2 separate regions of the Homo sapiens genome follow, and region 1 is linked to region 2. A link means that fine-mapping ties the variant in region 2 to the expression of a gene that starts in the linked region. Tissue or cell type: whole blood. Region 2 holds a variant in brackets; the other region holds the start of a gene. All regions are shown on one strand. Distances are from middle to middle.

Evidence for each region. PIP is the estimated chance that this variant, and not a neighbour inherited with it, causes the effect.
Region 1: RB1-DT starts here. The variant in region 2 is fine-mapped to the expression of RB1-DT in whole blood (TOPMed, PIP above 0.99).

What each region holds. Positions count from the first base shown.
Region 1 is chr13:48,300,114-48,308,222 of GRCh38, forward strand. RB1-DT (RB1 divergent transcript) reads right to left here and starts at 3,589. Exons shown (of 3, transcript NR_046414.2): 1 at 3,178-3,589; 2 at 2,226-2,379. It overlaps RB1 (RB transcriptional corepressor 1), which reads left to right and starts at 3,638. Exons shown (of 27, transcript NM_000321.3): 1 at 3,638-3,936; 2 at 7,167-7,293. The coding sequence starts at 3,800. RefSeq lists enhancers at 2,766-3,491, 3,492-4,215, 4,290-4,339, 4,580-4,649 and a silencer at 3,790-4,079.
Region 2 is chr13:48,539,969-48,548,077 of GRCh38, forward strand. All of the region lies in intron 1 of LOC124903174 (a long non-coding RNA gene), which reads left to right. Among named protein-coding and RNA genes, the nearest start is that of RCBTB2, 11 kb to the left of the region's middle. The variant G/A (reference allele first, on the strand shown) is at 4,465.

The DNA.
Region 1 (8,109 bases), 240 kb before region 2:
CCAAATTTTAATATCACTGAAGGAGTCTCAAACTGAAGAGAGTTCCCTCTCTAGATAGAAAATCTAAGAAATACATATATTTTTTGTAGGAGTCTTACAGCAATCTTCTTAAAATTACCAAGCAGGTTGGAAGAGATCCATGAATTTCAAGAAGTTCAGGGGGAATTTTTTTAAGACTCTGCTGAAATATATATATATATATATATATATATATATATATATATTTTTTGAGATGGGGTCTTGCTCTTGTCGCCTAGGCTGGAGTGCAGTGGCATGATCTCAGCTCACTGCAACCTCTGCCTCCTGGGTTCAAGTGATTCTCCTGCCTCAGCCTCCAGAGTAGCTGGGATTACAGGCACCTGCCACCACACTCAGCTAATTTCGTATTTTTGGTAGAGATGTGGTTTCACCATGTTTGCCAGCCTGGTCTCAAACTCCTGACCTCAGGTGATCCACCCGCCTTGGCCTCCCAAACTGCTGGGATTACAGGCGTGAGCCACCGTACCTGGTCTAGACTCTGCCGAAATTCTAATACTTCTTTGGTAATGCAACAGAAAACTAAAGATTTTGATGGTGAACTCAATTGCTTCTGAGTTGTGTGGATGAAAATATATTTTATTATTTTTTCCTTCAACTTTTAAGCTCCCAGGTATATGTGTAGGATGTGCAGGTTTGTTACACAGGTAAATGTGTGCTATGGTGGTGTGCTGCACAGATCAACCCATCACCATGGTATTAAGCCCAGCATCCATTAGCTCTCCTGATGCTCTCCCTCTCCCCACCCTTCCCCGCTACAGGCCCCAGTGTGTGTTGTTCCCCTTCCTGGGTCTATTTTATGGTATGTATGTGTGTATGTGTGTGTGTGTGTGTGTGTGTGTGTGTGTGTGTGTATCTATTTATGTGTATATATTATGATATATACACCACACTTTTTTCAAACTATTATTTTAGGTTTAGGGATACATGTGCAAGTTTGTTATATAGGTAAACTGTGTGTCTCTGGGGTTTGGTGTGTACAGATTTTTTCACCACCCAGGTAACAAGTGTAGTACCTGATAGGTAGTTTTTTGATCTTCTGTCCTCTCACCCTACACCCTCAAGTAATCCCCCAGTGTGTGTTGTTCCCCTCTTCATGTCCATGTGTTCTCATTGTTTAGCTCCCACTTATAAGTGAGAACATGCAGTGTTTGGTTTTCTGTTCCTGCGTTAGTTTGCTGAGGATAAAGGCTTCTGGCTCCATCCATGTTCCTGCAAAGGACATGATCTCATTCCTTTTTATGGCTGCAGGAAAATATATTTTACATACTAGTGAACATAGTTAAATTAATCCATGGTCAAGACATATATTCTTTTGTAAATTGAGAAATCTCTTTATCATAATTGTAATATGGTAATAAATAAATCTAGATTACATAAATGTAATCTAGATGTTGATAAACTGGTTTTAAATAAAGCAAGTGATATCTACGTATGAAGAGAGTTTACTTCAGTTCCTAGAACTTTCCTTCACTTTCCTGCCATCCCTACTTTTAGTAAGCAAGCATTTACTGTGTGTGTAACACTGTGCTAGGTACTAAGGCAATGATGATACCCAAGATTTGGTCTCTATCCTGAAGATAAGCACAGGAGAAACATTATCAGTCATGATGCTTTCTGTTGCAAACAAGTGAAAACCTCAGCTCAGCTTAGGTCAGCTCCAGGGCTGGCCAAATCAGAGGCTCATTTATAACACTGAGGATCCAGATTCTTTTGAAATTCCTCCTGCACCAATATCAGCATTTCTACCTTCTCTGTAGGTTGGCTTGCCTCACGTTACAATGGCTGCAGCAATCAGAAGTGTCACATCCTCAGTAATACTTAATATTATTACTATTATTTAATAATATTTAGAACTGTGCCATCCCTGTTTCAATTTATCAGGCTCCCAGCAGACTACTCCTTATCTTTCAAATGTCAAAACTGCATCCTGAGCTCTTGCCTAAACTAATCTGGGGTGAGGTGAATGGAAGTAGCACTTTAATTGTATTCATTCTTTGTAGCTGGACCTGGGCCTGGGCCCTATCTCCTGACATTTGCCCACAAGAAAGATTTCTGAAGTTAGGTAGGACTGGCTGTTGAGTAGGCCAGTGCTTGCCAAACCTTTACACATCCTCACATATGTCATAATATGCAGATAAAAAGATAATCCCTTATACAACTTGCTGGGATAAACTCAGGAGGCTTACAGCCATGACCTGCTTGAAGGTTCTTCCTGCCTTAGACCTTGCTCAGCTGCTCCAGGATGAGGGGATTTACATCACAGCACAACTGTATTTTATTCACAGCATAAACCATCTCTTTCCTTCTCAGTTGACGAGTTCAGATGGGCAATAACAGTGTCTGCCAAAGAGAAAAAAAAATGTATTCAAACTAGATAATCTATTGGTACAAATACCGAGACACAGAAGTGATAACAGCTTTAAGCCAATGTTTGATGGTGGTAGTCCCAGCAAGCTCTTTTCTGATGTCTTTGTGCCTTTGCACATGCTCCTTCTCTGTCACTGTTTTCTTCATCAAACATAATATAATGGACAAGTGGAATCAAATAGAATTGAGTTCAAATTCTCTGCTACCCATCGGCCCTGGTATTGGACAAATTAACTCCTCTGAGCCTGTTTCCTCATCTGCAACGTAGACTAGCTAATACTACCCATTGGAAAGCGTTGTTTCTTAGCTAATGCATGCAAGGCTTAAAACCTAGATGACGGGTTGATAGGTGCAGCAAACCTCCATGGCATACGTATGCCTATGTAACAAACCTACACGTTCTGCACTTGTATCCCGGAACTTAAAGTAAAAAAAAAAAAAAAAAAAGAAAAGAAAGAAAGAAAAAGAAAAAAAAGGCTGTTTCTGGGGATTAAATAAGACAATTATGTAAGGTGGCCAGCACAGTTCCTGGTACATAGTAAATGTCAGGCCTGCCTGACAGACTTCTATTCAGCAGCTACTGCTCCCCTGAAAATCTTCCTCAGACGTTTCCACGGTGCTTCCCGTTCTTACACCACTACAATCCTTTATTACACTACTATCCGTTCATTCCCCACAGCTCCCTCCCTTCCTTTCCCTAACCAGTGATCCCAAAAGGCCAGCAAGTGTCTAACATTTTCTATCTTCTAAGTGACTGGTAAAGTTCCGCACCTATCAGCGCTCCAAGTTTGTTTTTGTTTTGGCCGACTTTGCAAAACGGATTGGGCGGGATGAGAGGTGGGGGGCGCCGCCCAAGGAGGGAGAGTGGCGCTCCCGCCGAGGGTGCACTAGCCAGATATTCCCTGCGGGGCCCGAGAGTCTTCCCTATCAGACCCCGGGATAGGGATGAGGCCCACAGTCACCCACCAGACTCTTTGTATAGCCCCGTTAAGTGCACCCCGGCCTGGAGGGGGTGGTTCTGGGTAGAAGCACGTCCGGGCCGCGCCGGATGCCTCCTGGAAGGCGCCTGGACCCACGCCAGGTTTCCCAGTTTAATTCCTCATGACTTAGCGTCCCAGCCCGCGCACCGACCAGCGCCCCAGTTCCCCACAGACGCCGGCGGGCCCGGGAGCCTCGCGGACGTGACGCCGCGGGCGGAAGTGACGTTTTCCCGCGGTTGGACGCGGCGCTCAGTTGCCGGGCGGGGGAGGGCGCGTCCGGTTTTTCTCAGGGGACGTTGAAATTATTTTTGTAACGGGAGTCGGGAGAGGACGGGGCGTGCCCCGACGTGCGCGCGCGTCGTCCTCCCCGGCGCTCCTCCACAGCTCGCTGGCTCCCGCCGCGGAAAGGCGTCATGCCGCCCAAAACCCCCCGAAAAACGGCCGCCACCGCCGCCGCTGCCGCCGCGGAACCCCCGGCACCGCCGCCGCCGCCCCCTCCTGAGGAGGACCCAGAGCAGGACAGCGGCCCGGAGGACCTGCCTCTCGTCAGGTGAGCGAGCAGAGCCGCCGTCGCCTCACGCGGGAAGGGCGCCCCGGGTGTGCGTAGGGCGGGCGCCAAGGCGGCTCGGCGGGGATCCGTCCTCGCCAGGGGCCGGGTCCCGGCGGGAGGAGGCGCCCTCCCTGCCCCCCGCCACGGCGGAGCGTCTGCAGAATGGTGACAGGATTCTGGGTTCTTGGGCGAGGGGTCTCGGCTTCAACTTGACAGGTGTCGGGCGGGTGGGGCTAGGGTCCTGAGCGAAGTGACAGGTGCAGTTCCCTCTTGTGAGGCTCGGAGGCAGAGGGTCGTTGCGAGCGTCCATCAGACGCAAAAAATGAAAAATAAAAATACAAAAATGGTGTCTGTGGGAGAGTTTTTCACCGGAGAATTGGAGTACTCCGGTGGTCGTCTGACTTTCTGTTTTGGTTCACGCGATGCAACAGTTGGGAAGTATTTTCTTCCGGGCGTGCACTGCATCTGAAGTCCATTTGTGGGAGAGGCCGACCAGAAAGCCTTGGACAAGAAGCGCAGGGTCCTGAGTGTCCATTGCCCACAGGATACTCGGCTCAGGAGCTTTGCGGCGTTTCCTTAGAACAATAATGCATCGAGGCCTTGGGGACTCAAAGCCATCTGTAGTGATTGATGGAGCGTAACTCTTTAGAGGAACTGAAACATGGGCAAAACTTTCATGAGACATTTACCAGAAGTGCTTGAAAGTTTCTAAACTTTTTTTTTTCCTGTTTGATGAACTCTTCTTGCGTGTTAGTCGGCTTCGGCTTGTCTCATTATTTCTTCCATTTTGCCTTTTGACTTTGAACCAGCAAGGATCTTGGTGTCCCCTCTTTTTGCCTTTGTTTTTGGCACAAAATTAGTGGTTCTGTGCGCAAATGGAAATTTTCGTTTTCCCTTATTAAGTGGAATCTAAATTTAAGCAAGTCCATACGAATGCACTAGATCTTGAAGGGAAGTATTTATTGTATTACAACATCTTACTTTTCTTGATTTTTCTACTTTATGGTTAAATAGCTATGATTGAAAGAGTGTAATTGTCATTATTGTCAGCACTGGTTCTACTTTGAGACAAGTTCATTGCAGAGGGAATGGGACTTGTTTCTGTTTTTCACTATTTTCTCTCCCATTCTTGTCTATCACCAAATCCTTTCACCCTCACCCATTTCTTTCCACTCGGTATACACTAACAATTCACGGCAGAAAAGATTGAAGTGGGATTTAGGAAATGGCCCCTGGAAGGCTATTAAAAATTTATATATTTAAATGGACTGTCTTATAGGTCAGTTAAAAACCATATTCGTTAAAAAACCAAAATAACAACAACAAAAAATTAAAAACCACGTCTGGGGCATGTTCTGGGAAAAGACATGGCTTTAGTTTCTGATTAAATTCTGATGTATCCAATTCTTGCAAATTTCCCTTGGGAAAATGCAGTAATGGCTACTCTAAAGAATTCCATGTTATGCACACAGCTTTGGAAGCATACTCTAATGTAGGGTAACCAGGAATATTGACGTTGTGGCCACTGCTTGGAAAAAAGAGGACTGTTTCTTTCATTTTTTAACTCATTTTATATATTTTAAGTAATGGAACTATAAAAAATTCTCTTATAAGTCAAAACCATACAAGATACAGTCTGTTCTTGATTATCCATACCCACAAAGGGTTTCATTAACATAGACAGTTGAACTCTATAAATTAACCAGCAAGGGTAGAACCGCTGCCGTGCAGTCTGATACTGAGCATCTTGCCTGGAGATGGAATCAAGGCTCAGTCCAACTGCACCTCCAGTGACAGATTCCATTCCTGATTTGAGAGTTTAGATCTTATTTCTGTTGCCTTATCTCTGGCCTAAGTAATGTAGCTGGAAGGGAAACTGTCACTAGGAACAGCATACCACATTCATTGTTGAAATAATCAAAGGTTAATCATGTTTCGAGCTGGGTGTGATGGCGCGTACCTGTAGTCCATGCTACTCAGGAGGCTGAGGCAGGAGGATCACATGAGCTTGGGAGTTGGAGGCCAGCCTGGGCAACAAAGCAAGACCCCAGTCTTTAAAAAAACAAAAAAGCTGACCAGGCATGTTGGCTCACGCCTGTAATGCCAGCACTTTGGGAGGCCAAGATGGGAAGATTGCTTGAGGCCAGGAGTTTGAGAGGAGCCTGGGCAACAAAACAAGACCCTGTCTCTAAAACAAATTTTAAAAAATTAGCCAGTGGCTGTGGCACACCTGTAGGCTCATCTACTCAGGAGGCTGAGGTGGGAGGATCCCTTGAGCCCAGGAGTTTGAGACTGCAGTGAGCCATGATTTCACCACTGCACCCCAGCCTGGATGACAGAGTGAAACCCTATTTCAAAACAAGAAAAAAAAACAAAAACTAATTATGTTTTGAAGGAGGAATTGGCAGTCTAGAATAGTGGTCAAGGGCATGGATTATAGAGTTAGACTGTTGGGCTCACATAGTGGTTTACCTCTTACCGGCTGAGACCTCAGGTAAGTTCTTTAACTTCTCCAATTTGACAGACATCTGTAAATGTCTACTTTTACAGATGAGAATACTTATCTAAAAGGGCTGATGTCGGGATTCAGTGAAACCATATGTTTAAGGTACTTTCTACAGGATCATAGTAAATACTCAAAAATTATTAATTATTCTTCATACTATTCTTATTAGTAGATAACACATAGAAATTAGATGAATGAAAATGAATTAGCCAACAAGAATTTATTAAATGCTTGTCTTTGTTAAGGGGAAAGGACAAAAATAAGCAGTCGCATCATGTAAGATGTGCTAGTAGGTAGAGAGATATATGAAACATTGATAAGAGAAGACTACAGTTTAACAAAGTCACTGGCGTTGAATTGTATAATATTATCTATGGGTTTTTATCTTTTTGTTGTTATCTTTATCCTATTTTCCCAAACAGCTTTAGCTATTACATTTACTTTCCTTCACAGAAGTGTTTTGCTGCTTTGAAGTATATTTGACTTACCATGCAAGCAAATATTTTTCACTGTGTGGTATCCTTATTTTGGAATGACCATGAAAAAGATAATCATATGTTTAAATTTGAAGTGTAATGTTTTTCTAAGATAAAATAAGATCTTAAAGTATTTAATAATGTTCTTTTTCACAGTAGTGTTATGTGCAAACTATTGAAACAAGTATGTACTGAATCAATTTGATTTATAAGTATATGCCAATTATATGATTATTTTCATTTGGTAGGCTTGAGTTTGAAGAAACAGAAGAACCTGATTTTACTGCATTATGTCAGAAATTAAAGATACCAGATCATGTCAGAGAGAGAGCTTGGTTAACTTGGGAGAAAGTTTCATCTGTGGATGGAGTATTGGTAAGGATTTTCTTAAAACGTTTTGAAATTTTTTTTTCTCATTTTAAAAACAACTTCAAATCACTATACAAAAATTGAAAGATAGAAAAATATAAAGACAATAAAAGCTAATAATAATTCCATTACCCAGAGGAAATTTACCTCTGCTAACATTAAAAATGTTTGAGGCCGGGCACGGTGGTTCATGCCTGTAATCCTACCACTTTGGGAGGCTGAGGCAGGTGGATTGCCTGAGCTCAGGAGTTCGAGACCAGCCTGGGCAACATGGTGAAACCCTGTCTCTACTAAAATACAAAAAAAAAAAAAAAAATTAGCAGGGTGTGGCGTGCGCCTGTAGTCCCAGCTATTTGGGAAGCTGAGGCAGGAGAATTGCTTGAACCCAGGAGGTGGAGGTTACAGTGAGCCGAGATCGTGCCACTGCACTCCAGCCTGGCAACAGAGCGAGAGTCTGTCTCAAAAAAAAAAAAAGTTTGAAAAAAATTCCTCCATAAATGCCTCCCACCAAACTATTTTAAAGCAGGTCTTAGTTATATTTTATTCACTATGATACAAGGACTTTTAAAAAAACACCGCCATACCTTATAAAATAATTTTTATACCTTCTAATATGCAATCAGTGTTCAGATTTCCTGACTGACTCAGAATTAGTTTTGTTAGAATTCAGGATCTTGAAAATATATTGATATATTCCTTTCATTTTTTCTTTGCGTAAGTATAGATGTATATGTTTAATAAAAGGAGCAAATAATTACTAGAGTTTTATATGTACTGGGGCAATAGTATAAGAATTTTACATAGCCGGGCATGGTGGTGTGT
Region 2 (8,109 bases):
AAGACCAGGCTGGGCAACACAGTGAGATCCTGTCTCTACACACACACACACACACACACACACACACACACACACACACACACACACACAAGAACTTAGTGGGATGTGGTGGCTCATTTCTGCAGTCTCAGCTACTAGAGAGGCTGAGGTGGGAGGATCACTTGAGCCCCAGGAGTTCAAGGCCACAAAGCCTTAATTGTGCCACTGTATTCCAGCCAGGGTGATAGAGTTTTCCAGACCCCACAACTCAAAAAAAAAAAAAAAAAAAAAGAGTAGATGTGCAACACTTGCAGGGAATAAAAAAAAATAAAATAATGTGAACTTAGTAAGTCACTTAATATTCTAGGGGCCTCAAAAATCTTTACCTTTAAAAATGGAGGATTAGACTTAGTGTTTCCTTAATATTTTAAGATTTTTGCAAAGCCAACCGATAACAAAATGTGATAAAGATGGCACGTTGTTTGCATATTAAGTAGGAAAAATATACTAAATAAAATGTAACAAATAGAAACTAGCAATACTTTTAAAAATATATTGTACAATTACCAAGATTGGGTTCCTTTCAGTGATGTAAATATGATTCAGTGTTAAGAAATTGATTAATATATTCTTCCATAATAATAGGTCAAAGGAATAGAAATGTTTTAATTCATGATGAGAAAAATGTTTGATAAAATTTAATAGTCTGTAATCATTTTTGATCAAAGAAATCTTTAGTAAGTGGCTACATACGATGAAAGCTAGGTTCATGCTTAATAGTTGTAAATCAAAAATAAAATTCTAAGCCCCTCAACCATCTGAACGGACCCCTCCTCTTGGCCACGTGCACTCCAAGTTAACCTGAAAACCTAGTTCAGGCCATGATGGGAAGGAGGGGTCAGACGTGCCTCATTATACCCTCCTCCCTTTTGGAATTCAGGAAAAGCCAGCCAGCATTAACATTAACTCAGACCTTCAATCTGATAAGAAACATTTATAATTGTTAAATCAAGTTTAGCTTAAAGCTGCCTCCTTACATATTTTAAGTTTGGCCTAAAGGTTTTTCTGTACATCATAAATTATAACAAGTAGAGGTGTACATGGAACACTATGCAGCCATAAAAAAGGATGAGTTCATGTCCTTTACAGGGACATGGATGAAACTGGAAACCATCATTCTCAGCAAAGTAACACAAGAAAAGAAAACCAAACACCTCATGTTCTCACTCATAAGTGGAAGCTGAACAACGAGAACACATGGACACAGGGAGGGGAACATCACACACTGGGGCCTGTTTGGGGGTGGGGGTCTGGGAGAGGGATAGCATTAGGAGAACTACCTAATGTAAATGACGAGTTTATGGGTGCAGAAAACCAATGTGGCACATGTATACCTATGTAACAAACCTGCATGTTGTGCACATGTACCCCAAAACTTAAAGTATAATAATAAAAAATAAATTAAAAAAAGAAAAAAAAACAAGTAGAGGTGTAAACAAACTGTAGCCTACAATTGTGCCAATCACTGAGTTTTCCAAAATCTGATTTCCTTGAATGTACCCTTCATATTTCCCTCAAATTGGTGTGATTGGATCTAGAGTCTCGGTTAGATTGAGGTTCTATATTTTTGGCAAGATGACTTCCTAGATGGTATTGTGTCCTTCCACCAGGAGGCATTTAATGTTGGGTTGTTTCTTTCTGTGATATTGGTAGTTGTTAGTGCTCAATACCTAGATCCATTAACTCAACAGATACTGGAAATGGTGATATCCTAACCCTATCATTTCATCTTCATTTATTAGCTGACATGCTTTTATAAAGGGAAACTTTCTTCCTCAATGATTTGATTTCCCAATGACATAGGAAAAGCATGATAAGCATTTGATTCTGTCTCTTAATTTGCCAGTTTTTATAATAATTTTATAATAATGGGTTGGTCATTAGCAGTCTGCAATGGCCACTAATTGAGTTTCTTTGTTGGTATTGTCGTGAATTCATGAATTTAAGCTTATTTTATTGCCCACAGGACTCTGGTTTTTGTGATGATCACAGAGGAGCAAGCCTGGCTTGTCCGAGACAGTCATATCAATTCATTCTCACTTGATAGTGTCTGGGGTGGCCATGTGACTGGTCCTAGCCATAGACATTTTGATGGGGATGGGAACAGAGAAATTCTAGGCGAAGAAGGGCAGGTCCCTGGTGAAGCCCCATCTCAAGCTGAAAAGCCTGAGACTGCGGCCCAAAGTTAGAACTTACACCGCTGTTTCCCTGCTCGAATCTTGCCTTTTCCAAAGCACCCATGGCCCCACCCTGCCCCCCATCCTGTGCCTATAAAAACATCAGCCTCAGCTGGCAGAGAGAGGAGAAGCAGCTGAATGTCAGGGACTATAGCTGGACATCAGAGAGAAGCAGCCTGACTTCAGAAGGACAGCTTGGTGGCGTAACTTTGGAGAAGAATCTGGCTGGAGACTGCCAGACTTCAGGGGAAGATTACCTTCCCATCTTGTCCCCTTTTCAGCTGCCTCTCTTGGTGATTATCACTTTCATTGGCAATAAAATCCATGCATTTACCATCCTTCAATTCATTCATGAGACCTCATTTCTCCTGGATGCTGGGCAAGAGCTCGGGAGCCATGAGTGAGGATACAAAAAAGCTGTCACACTTGCCCTTTGCCCTCTCTGGCAGAAGGCAGCCGCCTCATATGAAAAGGCAGAGGGCCTGCTGAGCTGTTAGCACTCAAGTTGTCTGTGTACAGCAGGCAAAGCTAAAAGGGCACTGTAGCACTCCCTCTGGGGTTTCAGGGGTTGCAGGCACACCCCCCTGCAAATGCTGCCGCAGGGCCTGCACAGAGTTCACTCCTGCCAGTACCCAAAAGCACTCGCCCTGGCTCCTGCACCTGCTCACCTATGTGCTCCCTCCCGTGAGGAGTGGAGCACAGCAGATCCAAGTGAGTGGAGTTCACTCCTGCTGGCACTGAAGCAGCTGGCTAGTTCCAGCACCCGTGCACTCCAGTTCCTGCCTCATTTGCTCACGGGCTCCCTCCCTCAAGGAATTGAGAGCTGCGGGCTCAGTAAACAAGACAGCTCCTTTGTGAGTCCCACGAAGGGGTCAGGGAAATATCGTGCTTCAATTTCATACAAGGAAGTCCACTAGGAGGCTTCTGAAAAAACACGCCCACCCACCCACTCGGCTGCCCCCTCCTTCCCTTCCTGCTTTTTTTAGGTTGTCACATGAGGACTTGTTTGGAGAGGTGCTGCTGAAGCTTGGAACATCTCAATGGATACATGTGACACAAATGCACAATTGTGAACACTAATACTGCAGATCCAGACTTTTTGACAGGGAAAGCTGTCCAGGATGTGTTGCTGATATAAATACAAGTCATAAAAACTATATATGTAAAATTGAACACAAGTGTGTCTATTTACACTGAGACCTGCTTGGAAATACTTAAATATTGAGTGGTCATTTCTGAGAGTTGACATATTGACTAATTTATTTCTCTCTTGTATTTTTATATTGCTTAAGGTTTAAATTTTTATGTGAATAATAATCTTTTTTAAAAGTATGATTCCTATTTATCTCATGTTACTTATAATGGGGTTTTTTTTCTAAATATATAAGATCTCATAACTGGCATTACATGATTTTCTCCATGGCATGATCATCAACAGGAAATGTTTTAATTCTAGAATAACATTTACTGATAAACATTTTTGGAAATATTTAAGCATTTCCTGATCTGAAAATTTTTGTGATTTTTTTCTTTGTATAGTTTATTGTTATACTTAATAATGCTTTCCAGCCCAGTGGAGCACAGTCATCTTGTCAGAGAAAAAACACTTTCAGAAAAACATGAGTTTTATAGACATTTTCTACTCACTAGAAAAATGAAATTAGTACATTTTTCACTTAGTGGTAAAAATGATAAGCAGTCTCCCTTTAGCCTACCTTTAAGAAATTTCAATTTCTTGGGTCCATTTAATTCTCCTAAGACACTGCATATTCTTAAAACAGAAAGGATATTTTTAAAAAATTTCTAGGCTTCCGGAGAAAAATTGAAAAAGGGTCTTCTTTCTTTTGTTAATGACCTTTTAAATGGCTGGTCCTGCACAGGGAGTTAAGGCCAGGCTATCACAGTAGACAAAGGAAATAGGCTCAGTGCTGCATGCTCCACATTATGAAAGTTGTGACAAATTCAACGTAAGCTATAAGCTTACTCTCTGGATCTCATAAAGTAAAGTCAGAAATGCCAGAAAGAAACGTGTGGAGCCGACGCTGAAGATGAATCTAGAAAGGCAGTTCCTCAAGGGCATTGATAAATATTAAACAAAGAGCAGATATGGTCTGGAGGATGACATGAGGGGGACAGGTTGGATGTAGGGAAACAAATAGACGTGGTTGAAGGAATCCAGAGGAATTTGAGCAGTGGTTTTGAGATGGAGAGGAGAAGAGAAAGCAAGAATTAGGCAAATACTTACATT[G/A]TATAGTCTCTTTGGTCATTTCTCGCTTGTTTTCTCTTAGCATCATTGGAGTCTTCAGAAGGGTTAAACTGAAAACAAGATTTTTCTGTCCATCCTTGGGTCAGAGCTCTAAAGGAGGAACAGTTGGCTCCTGGAAGCCAGCATGGAACTCGTAAAACTAAGCCAAGACATCTGCAGATTTGTGTTTTGGTTGGACAAATCCACATCTTCACTTGATGACTGACAGTAGGAATCACCTCCCCATACATACAGATAAAGATGTGATCCTGACCCCAGTTCAAAAACAGTAGGCCATCAATCCCAGGGCCATATTGGAGCCTTGATATCCAATCTCTGTTCTCCTTTTAGGGTATTCAGTGGGGTGGTGTTCCTCACACCCTCAGCTTGGAGTGTTCTTATAACTTCTGGAATGGGCCTGATCATTTGCAGCCTTCCTACAAAACTGGCTCTTCACTCAAATTTCACTTTAGGGAACAGACTGCTCTGAAATCTAGTTAGAGGTCAGATGAGGCCTTCCTAAGTTTTCTCTGGAACAGCAGGAACTCAAACCTGATCCTGCCATTCCAGTCTGAGCCAACTTGGGTCTGGAGATACTGTAGCAAATCTGCAACCTGGAAGGAAGGATGGGGCTGTCTCCCCACCAAGATGTTCAAAATCCGGAATCTCACATCAGCTTCGGCTCAAGAATGCCATCCCAGCTGTGAAATCACAATGCATGGGTCAGTGAGAAAGTTTAAGAGCCTCACCTAGAAGAAACGGTATTGAGTCTGTATTATTTAGAACCAGTGTCCGTTTAATCCTCTCTCCTGAGATTCCTATCTGGTGTGCTAGTTCCTAGCTAGAGTCTGGGGCCTGAGACACAAGTCGCTAGAGAAACCTTGGAAACCAATATATCGTCTCATTTTGCAAGACCTGGTATAATGTTTCTAAAGCTCAATAGTATAGTCTAAACTGATGGTCTCATATACATGACAGTGGAATAAGAAACAACATGAACATTTTAATTTTTTCTGTACTTTGAGATAATTACCCTTGTGATGGGTTTGAGGTAAACTCAGCTTCAGGGTTTCCAAAATTAAAATTAAGAGAGAGGTCTATAGAAAATTTCTGGCCCTATCCCCTGGAGTTATGCAGCCTGGGGTATGGCCCGTGGGACTGAAACCCTGTCCCAACATCACCACCAAAATGGCTGTTGATTCTGTTCCCAGGGGACTTCTCAAGTAATTTATAGAAGGAGAAATGAAGCTTAAGACAGGCAAATTTGGAGGCGATTATCAGTCAATGGTTTACAACAGGGCTGCCAAGTAGGCAGGACCCACACTATTGAGAAACCGGGAAGATGCAATGCAATGCTCCAGGCTCTGTGGCTATGCCCCATGCTCTCTTCTATTTACTTTTCACCTCAGTTCACTTCTATTTCTGATCTCTTTCCACAAGATTGACAGGGCTTTCTTTTGGACTTCTCTTTGATTAGGATTTAGCTTTTCCTTGGCTCACTCGGGGTTTCAACATCCTGGAATGCTTTCCCAGCACATCTGTGTATCTCAACATTTTCCATAGCACTCTGTCTTTCCTGATCACCTATGACCCAGCACTGCCACTTCATTCATGGGAATGTCCAGGCCCTCATTTAACCAGTCTTCCTAGTTCCCTGTTCCCTTTCCTACCCCATAGGACCACTTGAACCAGCTCATGGATCAGATACGTCTTCCACATCTTCCAAAAAGCTCAGAGGATTTTCTACCCCAAAGAGATAATCCTCAGGGAACCTGCTGGTCCCCTCCCTTTTTCTTTCAGTGTTTGAGACTTGAAGAGGATTATTCTGATGCTTTCTAGGCTCATCAGAGGATACAGGCCTATGGATCACTATGAAAGCATCCACTGTGAAACGGAAAATTGTGTTTTGAAGATAATGCTAGAAAGCTGACACCGCTAAGTCATACAATTCTCGTCTGTTCACAGAATATGATCAAAACTATTTTTTAGAACAAAGTTGATGTTTTTAGCATTGTCCCTGAAACTCCTGTCTCAGTGTAACTCCTTTACCCTGAACTGATTTGGCTTTAGAATATAAATTAGTGGTAAGACATGTATATGGCAAATGATTTGAAATGCAGAACCATGGCAACAAGAGCTTCTGTTAGAGAGAAAAGGAACTAACACTTATTGAGTGCTGTGTACTAGGTACCATGTGCCATTAATCATAGTGATAATGACAATATTGGAGCATGCATATTATGTTTAGGCATTGCTCTAAGTCCTTACATATGACCTATTTTAAGCCTCACAATAACTCCATGAGATGAGCACTGTGTCACTGTCCTCATTTTAGAAAAGAGAGGCTTAAAGAGGCTGAGTAACTTGTTTAAGATGAACTGAGTACCAAGCCCAGGTCTGTCTGAATCCAGCATCTTCTTACAGCATATTTTAAAAATGGATGAAACTTCCTACGGATTTAAAACTTTAAAGTTTTAGAAAATGAAGAGCTGAGTCACATGGCATAACTTGGACCTGATATAGTTAAATAATGATGAGATAAATGAGTTTTGACTGAGATTATCCATATTATCTCAATTTACTACATTTAGGCTATGAACACAGATTTCAATGGAACTCAAGTGACCATTTCATGAGAATGTATACATTGCGTCCTTTCATTTCATCTGTGTTTGTTGCTACAATATCAGAAGGCTTACATGGTTAATTCTATCTTAATATATAACTAGTCTTAATCATATACAGAAAATTTCTATTTAAATCTAGTAGGTAAAATATGTATACAACCTCTTATTTAAAAAATTAAGGCCAGCCTGGGCATGGTGCTCATGCTTATAATCACAGCACTTTGGGAGGCCGAGGCAAGTAGATTTCTTGAGGCCAGGAGTTCGTGACCACCCTGGCCAAAACAGAGAAAACCCGTCTCTATTAAAATACAAAAATTAGCCGGGCATAGTAGTGTGCACCTGTAATCTCAGCTACTCTGTAGGCTGAGGCAGGAGAATCACTTGAACCTGGAAGGTGGAGGTTGCAGTGAGCCGAGATTATGCCACTGCACTGCAGCCTGGGTGACAGAGCAAGACTCTGTCTCAAAAAAAAAAAAAAAAAATTAAGGCTAAGCACAGTGGCTCATGCCTGTAATCCCAGCACTTTAGGAGGATCCACTGAGGCCAGGAGCTCGAGACCATCTAGGCAACATAGTGAGACCCCCATCTCTAGCACCTTGGAGTGTTCTTATAATTTCTGGAATGGGCCTGGTCATAACTGGGTGTGGTGGCGCACATCTGTAGTCCTAGCTACTGGGGAGGTAGAGGTCGGGGGATCACTTGAGCCCAAGAGTTCAAGGCTGCAGTGAGCTATGATCCTCCCACTGCACTCCAGCCTGGGTGACAAAGTAAACCCTATCTCAAATAAATAAATAAATATCTGCTTTTGACATTTTGGAAAAAGAATAAACGAAAACCTACCCATATTTGCTTTTGTGTTTCAGACCTTTTTTAGCCAGGCATTTAAGACTGGCTGAGTGTAACCTTTGCCCTTGGCATTTGGGGGCAAAACCACAGGTATAGGCCAGCCCTGGTATTCGTGGGAGGATTGCACCATTCAGCAGTGTCAGGTCATGAAGCACAGATTCTCTCCAACAGTGCT